Regions from separate parts of the Homo sapiens genome. Here region 2 is linked to region 1. The links come from fine-mapping of genetic effects on gene expression. A gene starts in region 1. The other region holds a variant in brackets. All regions are shown on one strand. Distances are between the middles of the regions. Region 1 holds the start of TTC13 (tetratricopeptide repeat domain 13). Region 2 overlaps LOC105373167 (a long non-coding RNA gene).

The links. PIP is the estimated chance that this variant, and not a neighbour inherited with it, causes the effect.
Region 2: its variant is fine-mapped to the expression of TTC13 in whole blood (INTERVAL, PIP above 0.99). The same link has a PIP of 0.9 or more in lung.

The regions. Positions count from the first base shown.
Region 1 is chr1:230,975,103-230,983,438 of GRCh38, forward strand. It overlaps TTC13 (tetratricopeptide repeat domain 13), which reads right to left and starts at 3,759. Exons shown (of 23, transcript NM_024525.5): 1 at 3,458-3,759. The coding sequence starts at 3,728. ARV1 (ARV1 fatty acid homeostasis modulator) reads left to right here and starts at 3,992. Exons shown (of 6, transcript NM_022786.3): 1 at 3,992-4,177. The coding sequence starts at 4,004. RefSeq lists silencers at 3,074-3,363, 3,384-3,643 and an enhancer at 3,924-4,223.
Region 2 is chr1:230,897,118-230,905,453 of GRCh38, forward strand. LOC105373167 (a long non-coding RNA gene) reads left to right here. Exons shown (of 4, transcript XR_949264.3): 4 at 694-1,104. Among named protein-coding and RNA genes, the nearest start is that of C1orf198, 33 kb to the left of the region's middle. RefSeq lists an enhancer at 5,056-5,557. The variant AT/A (reference allele first, on the strand shown) is at 4,302.

The DNA of each region.
Region 1 (8,336 bases):
GGTGTCTCACGTCTGTAATCCCAACACTTTGGGAGGCTGAGGTGGAAGTACTGCTTGAGTCCAGGAGTTTGACCAGCCTGGGCAACATAGCCAGACCTTGTCTCTACAGAAAAAAAAAAAAAATAGCTGGGCATGGTGGCACACGTCTGTGGTCCTAGCTACTTGGGAAGCTGAGGCAGGACGATGGCTTCAAACCAGGAATTTAAGGCTGCAGTGAGCTATGACAGCACCAATGAACTACCTCCTGGGCAACAGAGCAAGACCCTGTCTCTAAAAAAATAGAAAAAACAACAGCACCTACTTCAGTATCAAAAGGATTAAAAAAGATTGCAGAGTGTTTATGACAATATAACTAAAAAAGTGAGGAAAGAATTGGAAAAATACTTCTGTTCATCATTTCCTCCGACAGTTACAAATTAAAGATAGGGCTTTGGCAACAGGAAATTTACTTTTATTTTTAAAATATGTACAATACAGTGTTCATTTTTTTAAAATAATATTTTTTCTCTACAAGTAAACAAAGAGAGAAGACAAGTTTGTGGTTATATGCTTTTCAAGTAAAAAGGTAAAAATAAATAAAATATCAAAAAGGTAAAATGTAAAAATGTGGAGTAGAAAATATTAAGGGCGGATCAGGAAACATGCAAAGCTCAAGCTGAGACATATGGCACCAGAGGGACATCCATGCCTGTCACTTCTGCAGTAGATCTGGGTGGGGCTCAGCCCACTGAGCATTAGGCTGTTCCCTGGGACATGGATGCCATGTGACGGTGGTGTGCATAGCTGGGCCAGCCATTGCTAGTGTGTTGTCTTTGGATTGGTGGGCTCCCACCAGCCACTGTCCTTGTATGTACAATCACTGGCGGTTCTGTCTCAAGGGAATACATATACTGCTTGTAAGAAGGTATGCAGATTTAAATTTAGACCCAAGCAGGCATCAGCTCAGCCATTTGAACCTGAAAGCTGTGGGAAAGATTCTGAAAAGTGGTTGTGCTGCTGTGTTTGTCCTCAGTATATGTGCTGGATTGATATGAACAGGTTTGTGGCTGGACAGGCAAGCAAGAGACGATGGCATGATCAATGCTTAGTAAAGCCAAGTCTGTATGATTCTGAAGAACTGACTAGTTCTGGATCCTGACATTTGTCTAGACCCTAATGTTGCTCAAATGGGTCTCCGGATACAGAGCATCAGCTGCCCCTCAGGCTATGGCACGGTTAGTTGTAAATCCCGAATTCATCCCCACATCCTAGGACAGAGAAGAAATGAAACAGGTTTCATAGGGTCCAGCTTCTACATAGTTGTCCAGGGCGAAGAGGGAGAAATGAGAAGTATTTCAGTAGCCCCTACAACAACAGAGTTGGCTTTTGTCGCATACTGCAGCCAGGAAAGCTGAGGGAAACAGCTGGAGCTCCAAGTAGTTGATTCTGGAAATGACTTCTTGGGTGACCACAGCGGCAGCTGCCCCACTTTAGCACCTGTTGGTAGCTACTCACACAGCCAGGGGAGGTGATCTGAAAGACTCAGGTCGTTCATTTGCAACAGTAAATTTTAAATTCCAAGCTAGAAAAAATAAGTACTACATGGGAGAGAGAAAAAGAAGGTAGAAACATCTAAATAAATTATGTTTACAGCTTCATGATACAGTGTTCATCCTCCAGGGAAATATCGTAATACAAGTCAGAGCTGGCTTGAACAGGGTTCTTAAATACTGGTGGTTAGCCTGATGCCAAAGAATCAAATAAGCCACCAACATCAATGATACCAATAGATATCATAGTATTAATCGATACATACCTTCTACTGTCTAAACGCTGGGGCTCCTTTAGCCAGTGAGCACCACATGAGCAAAGGAGAAAGGGAAATTTACCCAACATGCACCATATGCAAGTAAATACTTCAGATGTGGTTTGCCTACCTACAACCACTTAATGGTTAGGACAAAGGCTTTGTCTGGAGCCCGACTTCATGGGTTCCTCCTTTGGCAGCTGTGGGATCTCAAGAAGATGACAATTTCACTATGTTTCAGTTTGTTCATCTGAGAAAATGAGCCACCATCTAATGAGGTGGTTATTGTTTTTCTGATAGACTAATATACTAGGCTCATAGACCTAAAGCACTTATAACAGCACCTGGCATACAGCAAGCACTCAATATATGTCGGCTACTTCTCATTTCCCTCACAGCACCCTCGTGAGGAAAATAAAACCCCACAATTAGGTGAACAGTGTTTTCCACTTACAGAGGAGGCATTTTACAAAGACAGGTAATTCACTTGCTCAGAGATACAGAAAGTGACAGAGGTAAGTAAATGCCATTCTTTCTCCACCGTGCAAGGCTGGCCGTGTTACTTACGCCGTTACCAGCTAAGGCCTACCGCAAAATAAAAAAGTCACAAACCTCTCAGTGAGTGACACTTCCTCAAGGAAGTCAGACTGTACTAAAAGGAAATCAGATTGTGCTAATCTTGACGTCTCATCTCAACTAAAAAAAAAAGGTATTGTTTTCCCAGGTACACAATGCCGAAGAAAACCACTGCCAAGTCTTAAAAGCAACCATCTCCCAGTGGGTTCGGTAGACCCCGGTCCTTCCCAAAGCAAGCCATAAGGGAACTCACATAGAGAAGGGGGAAAGAGAAAGGGAGGAGATTGATGGGTAAAAAGACCCACGACAGAACTTCAAAACAAAAAAATGTACACACGTATTTTGTCCCAGAGGCATCTGCTATGATTTATTAAACTGAAGCCAATAGCGCCCATTCTTAATGAATGAGCTGGCGTAGCTCCAATACACACACGGCACTGACACACAGGCTCAAGGCCTGCAGGGGCCTTTTTTCCCTCTGGGAGACACCTGACAGATCGCAGGTTGATCTTAAACAACTGGAAGCAAGATGTCAACGAGCAGATAAGATGGGCTTGCTCTTTTTTTCCATTCCAGGGATCCAATTTTTAGGAACTGTTGTATACGAGACATTAACCCGGGAGGTCAGGAAGCCTGATTTCCAGGCCTAAGATGTGCCAGGCGTCTCCCTCCGGGGGCGGGCTCCGCAAGCCGCCGGGCTGGTTGCTCGTCCGCCCGCCCCTCCCTCGCCCCTTCGGCATCCTCGGGAGGCCGGCGGCGGGAACAGGGCTGCCCCGGGCCACCTGCCATCTCCTCCGCCACCCTTCCAACAGTTGCTTCAGACTCAGGAGAGAGGCCGCCCTGGCCCCAGGAGCATGCTGTCAGCTCATTTCTCGACTCGCCGCCCTGCCCAAAGGCGGCTGCAGGAGGGCGCGCGGCGGCGTGGGTGGCAGCGGCGGGAAGCTGCCCGCCAGGACCCCTGGCCGAGCCGGCTCCCGCGGATCGCGCGCCGCAGCCGGAGGCGTGAGGCCCGGGCGACCCGTACCCCGGCCCGGGACCCCAGCCCCGCTGCCCCGCCGCCCCGGCCGACTCGGACGCCCGCCGCCGCCCACTCACCGCCGCACTCGGCAGAGTACTGGTCCCCCCAGTCCCCGGACTGCGGGCTGCAGCCGCCGCCGCCCGCCGGGGCCTCCTGCTGCTGCCGGTGCTGCAGCTCCTGCTTGAGCAGGGAGAGCGGCGAGTAGTGCTCGGTGGCCAGGGCGCCTGGCCGCAGCCCGGCGGACAGGACCCCCAGCAGCAGCAGCAGCAGGACACGCCGGGCGGCGCCCGCGGCGGCCACAGCGCCGCCCCAGAAGCAGCAGCAGCAGCAGCAGCCGGCAGGTGCCATCTTCCCTCAAGGCGCATGCGCGACAGCCCTTGCCCGGCTCTCAGGCCTCCCCGCCTCTAACCTACGGCGGGCAGGTGGACCGTGGCAAGGGGGCGGGACAAGGGGAGAAGCATTGTGTGCTGGGAATGGTAGTCCCAGCTCGGCCAGCCCGGGGCCGCCTTGCCGGTGCCGGGACTACGAATCCCAATAAGCCCGCGCGGCGCAAGTCTTCCGGTCTGGCGTCTGACGTCTTACCCTCCACAGAATCGGAAGTTCTGGACTGCAGTTGAGTGGAAATGGGCAACGGCGGGCGGAGCGGCCTGCAGCAGGGGAAGGGGAACGTGGATGGGGTGGCAGCGACTCCTACTGCTGCCTCGGCCTCCTGCCAGTACAGGTGCATCGAATGCAACCAGGAGGCCAAAGAGTTGTACCGAGACTATAACCACGGTGTGCTGAAGATAACCATCTGTGTGAGTTGTCAGGTGTGGGGTGCCCTTGAGAAGAAAATGGCGCGGCGGGATTTGGGGACCGCGAGGAGCAGGGTCCTCTGATACAGTCTTTAGTTCGGTAGTTGACATTCCCGCCCGGGATCTTTGCATGAATATCTGTACTGATAGAGAACTCAGCTACCCGACAGCGCTTTTCTCATACTGGGGCATATTTGGGTGATATGACCTAAGCCGGCGAACGGACCGGACCGACAGACAGAGGTAGATGTGGGCATTTTGCAGAGAAATTTAAAGATCAATTAGGTTGACATTTTGGTTCATGCCAAAGCTACTTCCTTCTAGCTCTTCTCCCTTTGACAGAGAGATGGTACCATCCTTACCCTCCACAACCCATGTTGAATTCACCTACGATGCTTTTTAAAGGTTTCATCAATTGTCGTTATTGGATGTCTACGGTGTACAAAGCACTATGCTAGACGTTGGTGGTACAAAACCCAAAAGTGAGGAAGTAAAAATTCTCATTTCAAGGTGTTCGTAGAATACCTTGAACTTTCTGATGATTTTCCATCTCAGAGTTAAGGCCCGAATCCCTGAACTGGCTTATAAGGCCCTATGGAGTCTCCTGCTACTCTTTCCCTTCTTTATTTTACGGCAGAGAGAATAATCTTATGTTTAAAGAGTCTACAAAGTTGGAGGTTCTTTGGGGGTATTAATTAGCAAAGAACCTGTCACAGAATAGACAGTACATTTTTGTCCCATTTCAGATCTTGTGATTTTCTAATCTCTTTAGTAAATTATGGTCTGTAGTAATATACAAGAGAATTGACAAACTGAGTGTATACCTGTATAATCTGCCAACCACATAACGTTCTGATGCATACAACCTCAATTTCCTGTTCCTCTCTCAAGTACTTTCCCTCTTTTGTCAAAATGTCAACCCTTGTTAAATCCAACATATTGCCTGGTCTTGTCCCTGTACCCATGCAGCAGTACGTTGCTGGGGAAAAACAAATTTGTGACGATTAACCTCATATAGGCCTTTCATGATTTCTGGCAATCTTATTTCGGTTTTTTTTTTCTTTCTTTCTTTCTTTTTGAGATAGAGTTTCCCTCTGTCACCCAGGCTGGAGTGCAGTGGGGCACTCTCAGCTCACTAAAACCTCTGCCTCCCAAGTTCAAGCAATTCTCCTGCCTCAGCCTCCCAAGTAGCTGGGATTACAGGCCTGCACCACCACGCCGGGCTAATTTTTGTATTTTTAGTAGAGACCAGGTTTCACCATGTTGACCAGGCTGGTCTTGAACTGACCTCAAATGATCCACCCACCTCGGCCTCCCAAAGTGCTGGGGTTACAGGCATGAGCCACTGCGAAAACAGAAGAGAACTTCCACCAGGTTTGCAACAACATAAACCCAATACTAGCATTTGTTATTTCTTTACTGTACTGTCTTCTTCTGCCTTCTGCTGGATCATTCCCACCAGCATGCATACTGTTACTTCTTCCATCAAAAAAAAAAAAAAAACCAACACCACCAACAAAATACACTTGCTGCCACTTCCCCCTTTAGCTTCTGCTCTTTTTCTTCTTAATTAGAAAGCAGACCTTCTAAGATATGTTTGTACTGTCTATTTCCTTTCCTAGTTTCTCTTGAACCTGCTTTAGTCACATTCCCACCCGCATTTCATTAGAAACTGTTCTTGTTAAGATCACCACTTCCACTTTGCTAAATCCAGTAGTCGATTCTCAGTTAATGATCAGCAGCATTTTACCTCATTACTTCCTCCTCCTTGAAATGCTGTGTGCGCTTCCCAGGATTCAGTGCTCTTCTTATTGTCTTCTTACTTCACTGGCTGTTACCCCTCAATCTCCTTTCTGCTTTTGCTTCACCTCCCTTACCTCTTAATCATGGTGTATTCCAACGCATAGTCATCGTGCCTCTTTCTGTCTGCATGCTTTCCCTTGAAGAGCTCATTCTGTCTCATGGCTTTAAATACCGTCAAAATTTTGACAATTTCCAAATTTATATTTCTACCCTGAACCTCTTCCCTGAACTCCAGACTTAAATGTCCAACTACCTACTTGACTTCTCCACTTGGATTTCAATAGACAGCTCAAATATACCCATCACAGTTAATGGCAACTTTACCATTTTAACTCCTAAGACCAAGAAACCTTGGTGTCATCCCTATTTCTACTCTTCCTCTCACATCCCATATTCAGGTATTCAGCAAATCCTGTTCTGTCTTCAAATTATGTTCAGAATCCACTACTTCTCACTACTCCTGCTGCTACAATCCTCATCCAAGCCACCATGATGTCTACCTGAACTATTGTTGTAACTCCTATCTGGTCTCCCTACATCATCCTTGTACCTCTTCAGTCTTCTCTCCACACAGTAGCCAGGGACTGATCCTTTAAAAATGTAATTTAGATCATATCATCTCTTTGACCAAAACTTTCTGATGATTTTCCATCTCAGAGTTAAGGCCTGAATCCCTGAACTGGCTTATAAGGCCCTATGGAGTCTCCTGCTACTCTTTCCCTTCTTTATTTTACCGGCAGTCCCGCTGGCATCCTGGTGTTTCTCAGACCAGGCAGGTTCCTTCCTCAAGGCCTTTGCACAATGCCTGGAGCACTCTTCTATCAGGTATCTGCGTGACTAATTCCCTTACCTCCTTCAAACATCTCAGAGAGTCTACTCTGACTACCCTATTGAAAAGTATGATATGCTTCCCAGCTTTATCTTTCTCTATAGCACCTATCTTCTTGTAATCTTGTATATAATTGACTTAATGTTGTGTGTCTTCTCCTACTGGAAAGTAAGCTACACAAGGACAGACATTCTCTCTGTTTTATTCATTAATGTAGCTGTATCACCCAGAACAGCGACTGACATTTAGTAGCCACTCAGTAAATGTCTGTTGAATAAATGTATCACTTCCAGGTTTTTAGATTAGCATATGCTTGGCCATCCAGGTAGGAGGAAGAGAACAAGATCTTATATGTGGTCTAAACTTAATAACTTTTGGACTGGTCCAATTAAATGGTCAGTTTGGAAGATGATAACCACATAACTGAATATGGTCTGAAGAAAAGCTGGTATTTGTATATGCATTTTAGTTAGTAGTCTTCAATAATACAAAAAATCTCTTTTTGTTGGCATTAAGCTAACAAAATCCCTTTGCTAAACAGCAGGTGTTTATTTTGTTTATGGAAAGGCAAAATAATTATTGGATAGCTGTTTAGGTCAACATTCACTTACCCCCTCCCCTTTGTTCCCTAACATGATACTCTTTCTCCCAAGAGATGGACTTTGGAGTTATATTTGGAATATTGAATGGTGGCACAGTACTTTATGGATTCGTTATTGTCCACAGTCATTCCATAATGAGACAGAGTGTCTAATGGCCTTGTCGCTATCATGCTAATGCATACTAAACTTTAGGCCATAATAGCACGACTCAGGGAAAATCATTTTGTTGATGCCAGACTAAAAAATTAAACCATGAAGCAATGAATTATTTTAAAGGCCCTCCAACCTCTGAGATACAAAAAGTAAGAAGTTTTTAAACATTAGACCATGTGTTGTGACATAATCTCCAGAGTTTCTAAGTGGTTACTCATATATACTTTGGTCTCTTCCCTGCCGAACTTGGAGTCAGCAAGATCCTCAGCCTGATCGCCCACGTGTATTTTTCATCCCAATCTCCTTTCCTTTTGCTCTGCTTGTTTCTTCACTGCCATTCCTCCCAGCTTGCCTTTCTGTGTTTCTCTGACTTTCCTCTAATATATCATGTGTCCCTTGCTTTTAACCAATCCTGCTGCTTCAGCTCTTCACAATTTATTATAAGTACGCTTAAAGATACAGTACTTTCGGCCTAGCACGGTGGCTCATGCCTGTAATCCCAGTACTTTGGGAGGCCAAGGCAGGCGGAGCACGAGGTCAGGAGTTCAAGACCAGCCTGACCAACACGGTGAAACCCCATCTCTCTAAAAATACAAAAATTAGCCAGGCGTGGTGGCGCACTCTTGTAATCCCAGCTACTCGGGAGGCTGAGGCAGGAGAATCTCTTGAACCCGGGAGGCAGAGGTTGCAGTGAAGCTGAGATTGCGCCACTGCACTCCAGCCTGGATGACAGAGTGAGACTCCGTCTCAAAAAAAAAAAAAAAAAGTACTTTTT
Region 2 (8,336 bases), 78 kb before region 1:
TACATTATGAAATTATTTCAGCTCTCGTGACCAAGACAGTCTGGTATGGGGAAAGCAAGAGCCAGAAACTGTATTATTCCACTGGCCAGTTTTTATGTGTTTGTTTGTTGGCTTTGAGACATGATCTTGCTCTGTCGCACAGGTTGGAGTGCAGTGGCATGACCACAACTCATGGCAACCTCGAACTCCTGAGCTCAAGTGATCCTCCCACCTCAGCCTCCCAAGTAGCCAGGACTACAGGCGTGCACCACCATGCCTGGCTAATTTTTTAATTTTTTGTAGCAACAGGGTCTTGCTGTACTGCCCAGGCTGCTCTTGAACTCCTGGGCCCAAACAATCTTCCCACCTCGGCCTCCCAAATTGCTGGGATTACAGGGATGAGCCACTGCACCTGTACTGGCCAGCGTTCCTTGGCTGGTTTCTCTAATTATCCCTACATCTCCCACACTGGATTCAAAATGCAGAGATCCTTTGACAAGTCTTTATCAGTATAAAAGCCTCTGTGGTTATATCAAAAGCATGAAAAAGGAAAAACTATTTTAAATGAACTGTGGTTTTTCTGAATCTTCTCAAATTGGCTAATCAGTTAGAGAAAACTTAAGAATTTGTAATTGGCCCACTATACAACATATCAAAACTGTAAAGCTGGATAAAACACTGTAGATGACTTAGTTTCACGCTTTCCTTTTCCAGGTAAAGTAAGGCCAGAGAGATTAAATCCTTTGCTTGGGGGTAGGCAGCAGTGTTGGTTTTGGAGCCCACGTGTCCTGACTGAATACTCTACAGCTGGTCATTACTCCAGCTCCTTCTAGAGCATCAGGGAGTCCTGACTCTGGAATCCTGCAGTTCCCTCTGCCAGGGACTTGAGGATGTTCTGGTGTTCACATATAGCACAAGCACTTCCCCCTCTTTTCTTCTGATACCTGCATGCACACCTGAGACGCCTACTCCAAGACTCACCCTGGGGATGAAGTGGCCTGATTTCATTGTCATAAAGGCATCTCTGATGGGATTCTCCCAAGTCAGTAATCATCTGTGGGCTTTATGAATAACAAACATCTTAGCCTTGGATTATGTAGCTAATAAAAATAAGAGGTATATTCTAATATGCCAAAGTCAGCAATTGGGAAGTTCACGTCACCCGGTCCAATGTTGCATCCTCTCTGCGGTCTTTCCCAGTCTCCCCAGGCAGAGCCACTCCCTGCTCTTCTGTTCCTACCCAGATTTCTTAGGCTGTATCATGACCTAATTTGTACAATTTCCCCTGTTAGGACTGTGAGTTCCTTCTGGAAAGGGTTACTGTCTTACTCAACTATATCTCCAACATCTAGGACACAGCTTGGCCTCTAGTAGTTGCTGGGTCCAAATGATGGCTGGGACTGGGAGGAAGGCGCCATGTAGACCAAACAGGGATATAAGTGAACTTTCACACTCACCAACTTTCACTTACAGTCAGGGGCATCATAAGAATGATTATCCAAACCAGGATACTTTTGAATGGAAAGTGGCACTATTAATAATTACAATGGGACAGCAGGCATAAATCAGGCAAATTGGGGTATAGGACTGTCTTCCTTGTAACCTAGGTTTGGAAAGTTTTAGCTCTGGAAATTATGTACAATAAGAAAAGAAACATTAAGTGAATGCATGACTTGAAACCACTAAAAGAGAGGTCTGTTCAAATAAAGGAATTACATTCTGTCAAAGTATAATATACAGTGAAGGGATGGTTAGTCTAGAAATCACCATCCCTTTTATGATTTAACCAAGGGTATCGTATGCGTCTACCCTATGGCACTCTGGATTGGTCCAAGTGGTCACCTGACCTAACCTGGCCCAATCACGAGTCCTTTCCCTGGGATTCTGGGACTACAGCTGCGAAGGATGGGCTGTCTTTGGGTCGCCGATGCAAAGCTGAACACTGGTAGTAGCCCTGCACCCACCACGTTGGGAGAACAGGTTTGCAGATGGAGAGAGGAGCAGAAAGGAGAGATAGAGCCCGCTTCCAGCACAGCTGAAACATTTTGAGGGTCCAGGGCCAGAATATAAACGGACCCACCTATCACGTATCTAAAGACTTGGAAGTTATAAATCCATTGTCAAATAAAACATATCCTGTCTTCCTACCTTAATAAATGTATCTTCATGAGAAAAAAAAAATGGATATGGAACATGTGTAAAGCTACAGGTTTAACATATTCAAAAGTTTGCAAAATGCCTAAGACCAGTGCATTTAATCATTATTACACATTTGGTGTTCTCAATAGGCTCTGACATCAGCCAGAGTAATAAAGATATGCATGATTCAAAAATCACATTAATTCCTTAAAATGTATCATTCTTGCCTTCATTTCAGCAAAATCACTAATGTGGTTATATTCAAGATTTTTACTGAATTTGTGCTCTATCATGAGTTATGGATTAAAAAGAATTTTTAAAAAGATGTAATTGTAGTAAAAATATACCAAATCTGAATATATTTTTTAAAAATTTAAATAAATGTAAACATTTTTAAACTTGATTTTTAAAAAAATTTTTACTTTTAAAGTGTTCAATATGATCTATTAAAATTAAAGGCAGTGTGTGGATTATAATTTACAAATATTAAATTAAAACTCAAACCTTTAAAGCTAAATTTTATTTTAAAAATATAATTGCAATTTTAAATATAAAAATTATTTGCAATTCTAGCATTCGATGTCCATCTGGTTACCAGTGTAAAGAACTGGCATCATGCTTTACCTGTTGTGGCTAGACCTGCATATCTTAAGTTACCACGTGCAACTGTCACATAGGCCATGCTAATTCATGCGAACCTCCTGAATTGAAACAAAGCAAAGAAAAAAACAATCTAGACTACTGGAAAAAGGCACGTCACTATGTAAGAATCCAGTGCATTTATACTATCCGAAGGGAAGAATTTGACAAAATAGTTTTTTCCCCTCTTATCTAAGGCATTTCGATTGCTCAAGTAATTTTTGGAAGGAATGTGCCAGCATGTAATTTCAGTATTATTGGTCTCCCAAGGATGTGGAGCACAAAACCAGGCTGCTCAGTGGTCAAGCTAGCATCTCACTCAGAGGGCCAGAGCTGTGCTCCTACCCACACACATTACCAAAATCAGAGTATTGGTTAACGCTGCCCTGAAGGGAGAGCAAGAAGAAACCTAACAGATACAGAAAGGGAAAGAAGAAGGGTCAAGTTGCATAGGAACAGAAGAATGAAGATTATTTTAATGAAAATGTTCTTGTAATAAAAGGATTACAAAGTCAAGATTTTACTTCTAAGGCTCTTAAAATACAAGTGTTCATAGATGATAATTTTTAAAATCACAAACAGAAATATAATATTAATTGTTATAATGATAGGAGTGTTTCTGGAAAAAAATTGGAGGTGTAAAGGCTGGAGTAAGCCTGAGATAAGGTGATTTTTCTTATTGGATTAATCTTAACAGAAATCACTTATAGGCTGACACAAAATAAATGGGGTGATAATATAATGGATGAAAATCAGATTTTATAATACAAAAGAAAACAGCTATAAGAATGGACCAATATTAATTAAATGACACTTGGTGGAGGCAAAAAGATTAAATGGTAAAGCTTTATTAAACAGACACAGCTGCTAGGGAAGACGGAAGTTAGAGATTTTTAGTTGACTTGGGTCAATAGTGTGATGAAGCTGCCTTCGAGAGCTACTGTAGTCTGCTGTGTTTATATGAAATCTGTGATGTATATTTATTTATATGTATAAACATGTGTTCACATACATTCTGGGGTGCTGGTAATGTTCTGTTTCTTGATCTCAAAGCTGGTTATGTTAGGTTTGTGAAGATTCACCAATGTGCACACACATGTGCATTTTTTGTATGTATGTTGTACTTCAATTAAAATATTTTATGGGACAGACCACATGTGGACTATTATGTTTAGTTATGAACATTTATTTCATTTTAAGGAGTATGAAGAGGCGGTGGGAGGAGCCACAGAAGGAGCTATTTAGGCTGAACAAGCGAAGGCCCGGCAGGGGAGCTGTCTGAAGTTTTTTTGTGCATTCCGCTCAATGATGGTGTTTACCTAGGTTGACCGCCAGCTCCGTGGCACTACCTGAGTGACCTCTGGGCAGCTACTCACCTCTTTTTGTCCCAGCTTCCTCAACAGCAAATTACAGGAGCTTGACTAGATGATCTGAGAACTCCTTAGCTCTCAAGTGCTATGAGCATTAAAAGGCATGTGTATAAAACAAGTATACATGTATCAGAGTTAGTTGGTTCTCCCACTCATGTTTTTCTTACATGTTGT[AT/A]TTTTTTTTTTATCCAGCTGTGAAACTGGATGGTTAACATTTATGTACTTACCTGAAACAGAAAGTGCTACATTCACTTTAGAAGTTACTTCTATACCAAACTGGTAATTCAAGGAGTTAATTTGCATGTAAAAATTGTTCTAGTACTTTGCATTAGAAGCCTACTAATGGAAAGATTCATTGATTCAGAATCTATTTTTGGACAGAGATGTATTATTTTAAATTCTGATCCTAGTAAGTGACAATTTCCAGTTTTTGTTGGGCTTATACATAAGCCTTGACAAATCTGATCATTTTGACATGATCTCTAGAGTTGTGTTACACAACAAGCCAATCCGCCTGGCCCCCGATGGATGACTGCTGGAAGCCCCTTGAGTAATATGGTGGCATTTCTACCTGGTAGACAGCCAAAAGCAATCAAGCTCCTTGACAGAAGGGCTTATTTGTTTAAGGCTAAGAATGCGGCAGTCAAATCCCCGCTGGCCCCACCACCACTCTCCACTGAGGACTTACTACGCATGGCAAACACACTAGGCAACATTCAAGAGCTATGACAGGCAAGTCACTTCTCCCACCTGAGCCCGTTTGTCACCTAAGTGGGGATAATACTAGCACTTATCTCACAGGCCTCTTCAAAGGATTAAATGAGTGAAACAATGTACAACACTTAGAAAAAATTGGCCAGGCGCCGTGGCTCACGCCTGTAATCCCAGCACTTTGGGAGGCCGAGGTGGGCGGATCACGAGGTCAGGAGATCGAGACCATCCTGGCCAACATGGTGAAACCCCCCCCTCTCTACTAAAAATACAAAAATTAGCTGGGCGTGGTGGCGTGCGCCTGAAGTCCCAGAAACTAGGGAGGCTGAGGCAGGAGAATCGCTTGAACCCGGGAGGCGGAGGTTGCAGTGAGCCGAGATTGCGCCATCGCACTCCAGTCTGGGCAATAAAGAGAGACTCTGTCTCGGGATTAAAAAAAAAAAAAAAAAAAAAAAAAGGAAAGAAAAATGCCAGCCGTAGTAAGTGCTTAAAACACATTAGCTCCCGAAGGGCCCCAAACCCTGGAGACAGAAGCATCCGGTTGCAACCCCTCATCCCTCGAGAGGTGGCAGCAAGCCTTATAGGGAAGCCCAAGCCCAAGCCCAGTGTGGCATAGAATAGAGCAGGGGGCCCGCAGGGAGCCTCCACAATGGCAGGAGTTCTGCACGCTCAGTACCGGTAGCCCAGGGCTCTGGAGGTAGAGAAGTCTGCGGACCAGCCGGAGGAGGCCGAAGAGGCAGCGCATGCGCTGTTGGCCAGCGGACCCGAGCGGGCAGAGGTCAATCAACAGTAGACGCTGTACCCACTGAGGCTTGCTGCCCTAGCACAGGGAGCATGAGCTAAACCTCAGTGCGGAGGATCTGGGCAAAGGCCCGAGGGTGGCCAAGACGCCTGGCTCAGGAAATCAGACTGTCCCCCGAAGGGCGAAGGCAAGGAGGCTGGGAACTTAAACAAGGCAATTCAAAACTGCACGTCTGTGTCACCTTGAATGGGCACAAGTTAAACTCTTTATTGGAGCTTGTGAACCAAGTTGTGTTCAACTAAGCTGCCTGTGTTCAAGACTTAATTACATATATATGTGTATATCCAACTTAAAATGTTACAAATATATTTATTGACATATAATTCATTATGTGTTAATTGAAAAAAGTAAATTTTAAAAATTAAGCACAGTGTAGTGTGATCTCATTTTGTATATCCAACTTTCTGTAGACTAGTTTAACTGGTAAAATTTATGTTTACAACATATAAAACTAAAGGGATTCTATATTTATGGGAACATAGTTTGAAGCAAAAAGGGCTACTGTAAATCTAATCACAGCTCTAATATTCAAGAACATACTTGTTTTCATGATATTCTAGTTTGATGTTTCTCAGGTGTGGTTCCCAGACCACTTCTGTGTGAAGCACGTGAGGTTTAGGTGAAGATGGAGATCCCGGGCCTAACCACAGACACCTTGGATCAGAAAACAGAAGGAAACGTTTCAAGCCAGTCTAGAAGTGTTTTTTCTTTCTTTCTCTAATTTGTGCCCCCATGCTGCCACCAAACACTGTGGTTTTGACCCTAAAACCTCCTGGACCCTTGCTTAAGACCACCGGGATGCGCAGTGTGTTGGGTTGGGGGGATAGCAGTGTGTTTGCTTTCAGGATAGCAGTGCTGCTCAGTGGGATGTTCTGTGATGATGGGGCTGTCCCATGTCTGCTCTGTCCAATGTGATAGCTGCTAGCCACATGTGGCTACTGAGCACTTGAAAGGCAGCTAGGGAGACAGAAACAAGCGTTCGATTTAGTTTAATATTGATTAGTTTAGCTTTAAGTAGCTTGGGCTTGGGGGTAACAATGGAGATGGTAAGACATGAATGGATCTGGGATCTTCTTAGAGGTAAACAGGATCGGACTGGATGGTGATCATTTGAAAACTGCAGGAGGGCAGTGTAGACTCTGGAGGCTGCCTGGGTGTCTGGCTGAAGCTGCTGAGTGAAAAGGGAACCATTTCTGACACAGAGAAGCGTGGGGAGAAACAGACTTTGGGTGAAGGAATGATGGGCTCCATTACAGACATCTTAAGATGTATTCATGAACACTCAGATTTTGCTGGTCTGGGACACAGTGGGTTTCTTTAGGTGATTTTGCTGGTCTCTCTTTCTGAGGCATATCAATTTTATTCCATATTTCCAAATTATCAGAGAGTAATGATCACAGAGTTGGAGGTCAGTTTCCTGTCCCTCATACAGTTTCTATACCAAAGAAATTCCACACTAAAGTTCTTAATGTACTAGCAAATTTTGCTCTAGATTTTTTAAAGTTAGTTTTTTTTTTTTTTTTTTTTGAGGCGGAGTCTCGCTCTGTCGCCCAGGCTGGAGTGCAGTGGCGGGATCTCGGCTCACTGCAAGCTCCGCCTCCCGGGTTCACGCCATTCTCCTGCCTCAGCCTCCCAAGTAGCTGGGACTACAGGCACCCGCCACTACGCCCGGCTAATTTTTTTGTATTTTTAGTACAGACGGGGTTTCACCGTTTTAGCCGGGATGGTCTCGATCTCCTTACCTCGTGATCCGCCCGCCTCGGCCTCCCAAAGTGCTGGGATTACAGGCGTGAGCCACCGCGCCCGGCCTTTAAAGTTAGTTTTTTAAAAGTCTGAACATCTTGATCCACAGGAGCAATTTTATCGATAGAACTGTGATACCGAGGTAATAAGAAAGCTATATCTGATCTCTGCCCTCCAGTTCCTGGCACAGAGCTCGTAAAACTCTTGGTATTTTCTGAGTGATCGGGATGAGAAGTGTTTTTTGTTATTAATAAGCACCTTCCAACCATATCTGAATTTATGCTGATGAGATGACTCTTGGAGGATGGGGGTTGGGGGCCAGAGAAACTAACCATGTGATTAGAGGAACTTTCAGTCCTAACCCCCAGCCTCCAGAGAGAAAAGAGGGGCTGAGAATTGACCTAATTGGCAATGATTTAATCAACCATGCCTATGCAATGGAACCCCCATAAAAACCCTAAGTGAAAAGGTTTGGGGGTTTTTGGTTGGTGAACACTTCCAGGTGGGGGGACGGTGGTGGGCCTGGAGAGCGCACGGAAGCTCCATGCTGCCCCCCCATACCTTGCCCTGTGCACCTCTTCCATTTGGCTGTTCATGTGTATCCGATATAACAAATCAGTAATAGTAAGTAAAGGGTGTCCCTGAATTGTGTGAGCCATTCTTGCAAATTATCAAACATGAGGAGGGAGGGTGTGATGGGAACCCCCGAGTTATAGCCAATCAGTCAGAAGTACAGGAGGCCCTGACTTGCAACTGGCATCTGAAAAGGGGGCAGTCTTGTGAGACTGAGCCCTTAACCTCTGGGGTCTGTGTTAACTCCAGGAAGTTAGTGTCAGATGTGAATTGCAGGATCCCTCCCCACTCCAGCTGATATATGGAAAGCTGCATAATTGGTTGCTATGCGGGGAAAACTCCATATATCTGGTATGGGAACTCTTGCGAATAAAAACAGA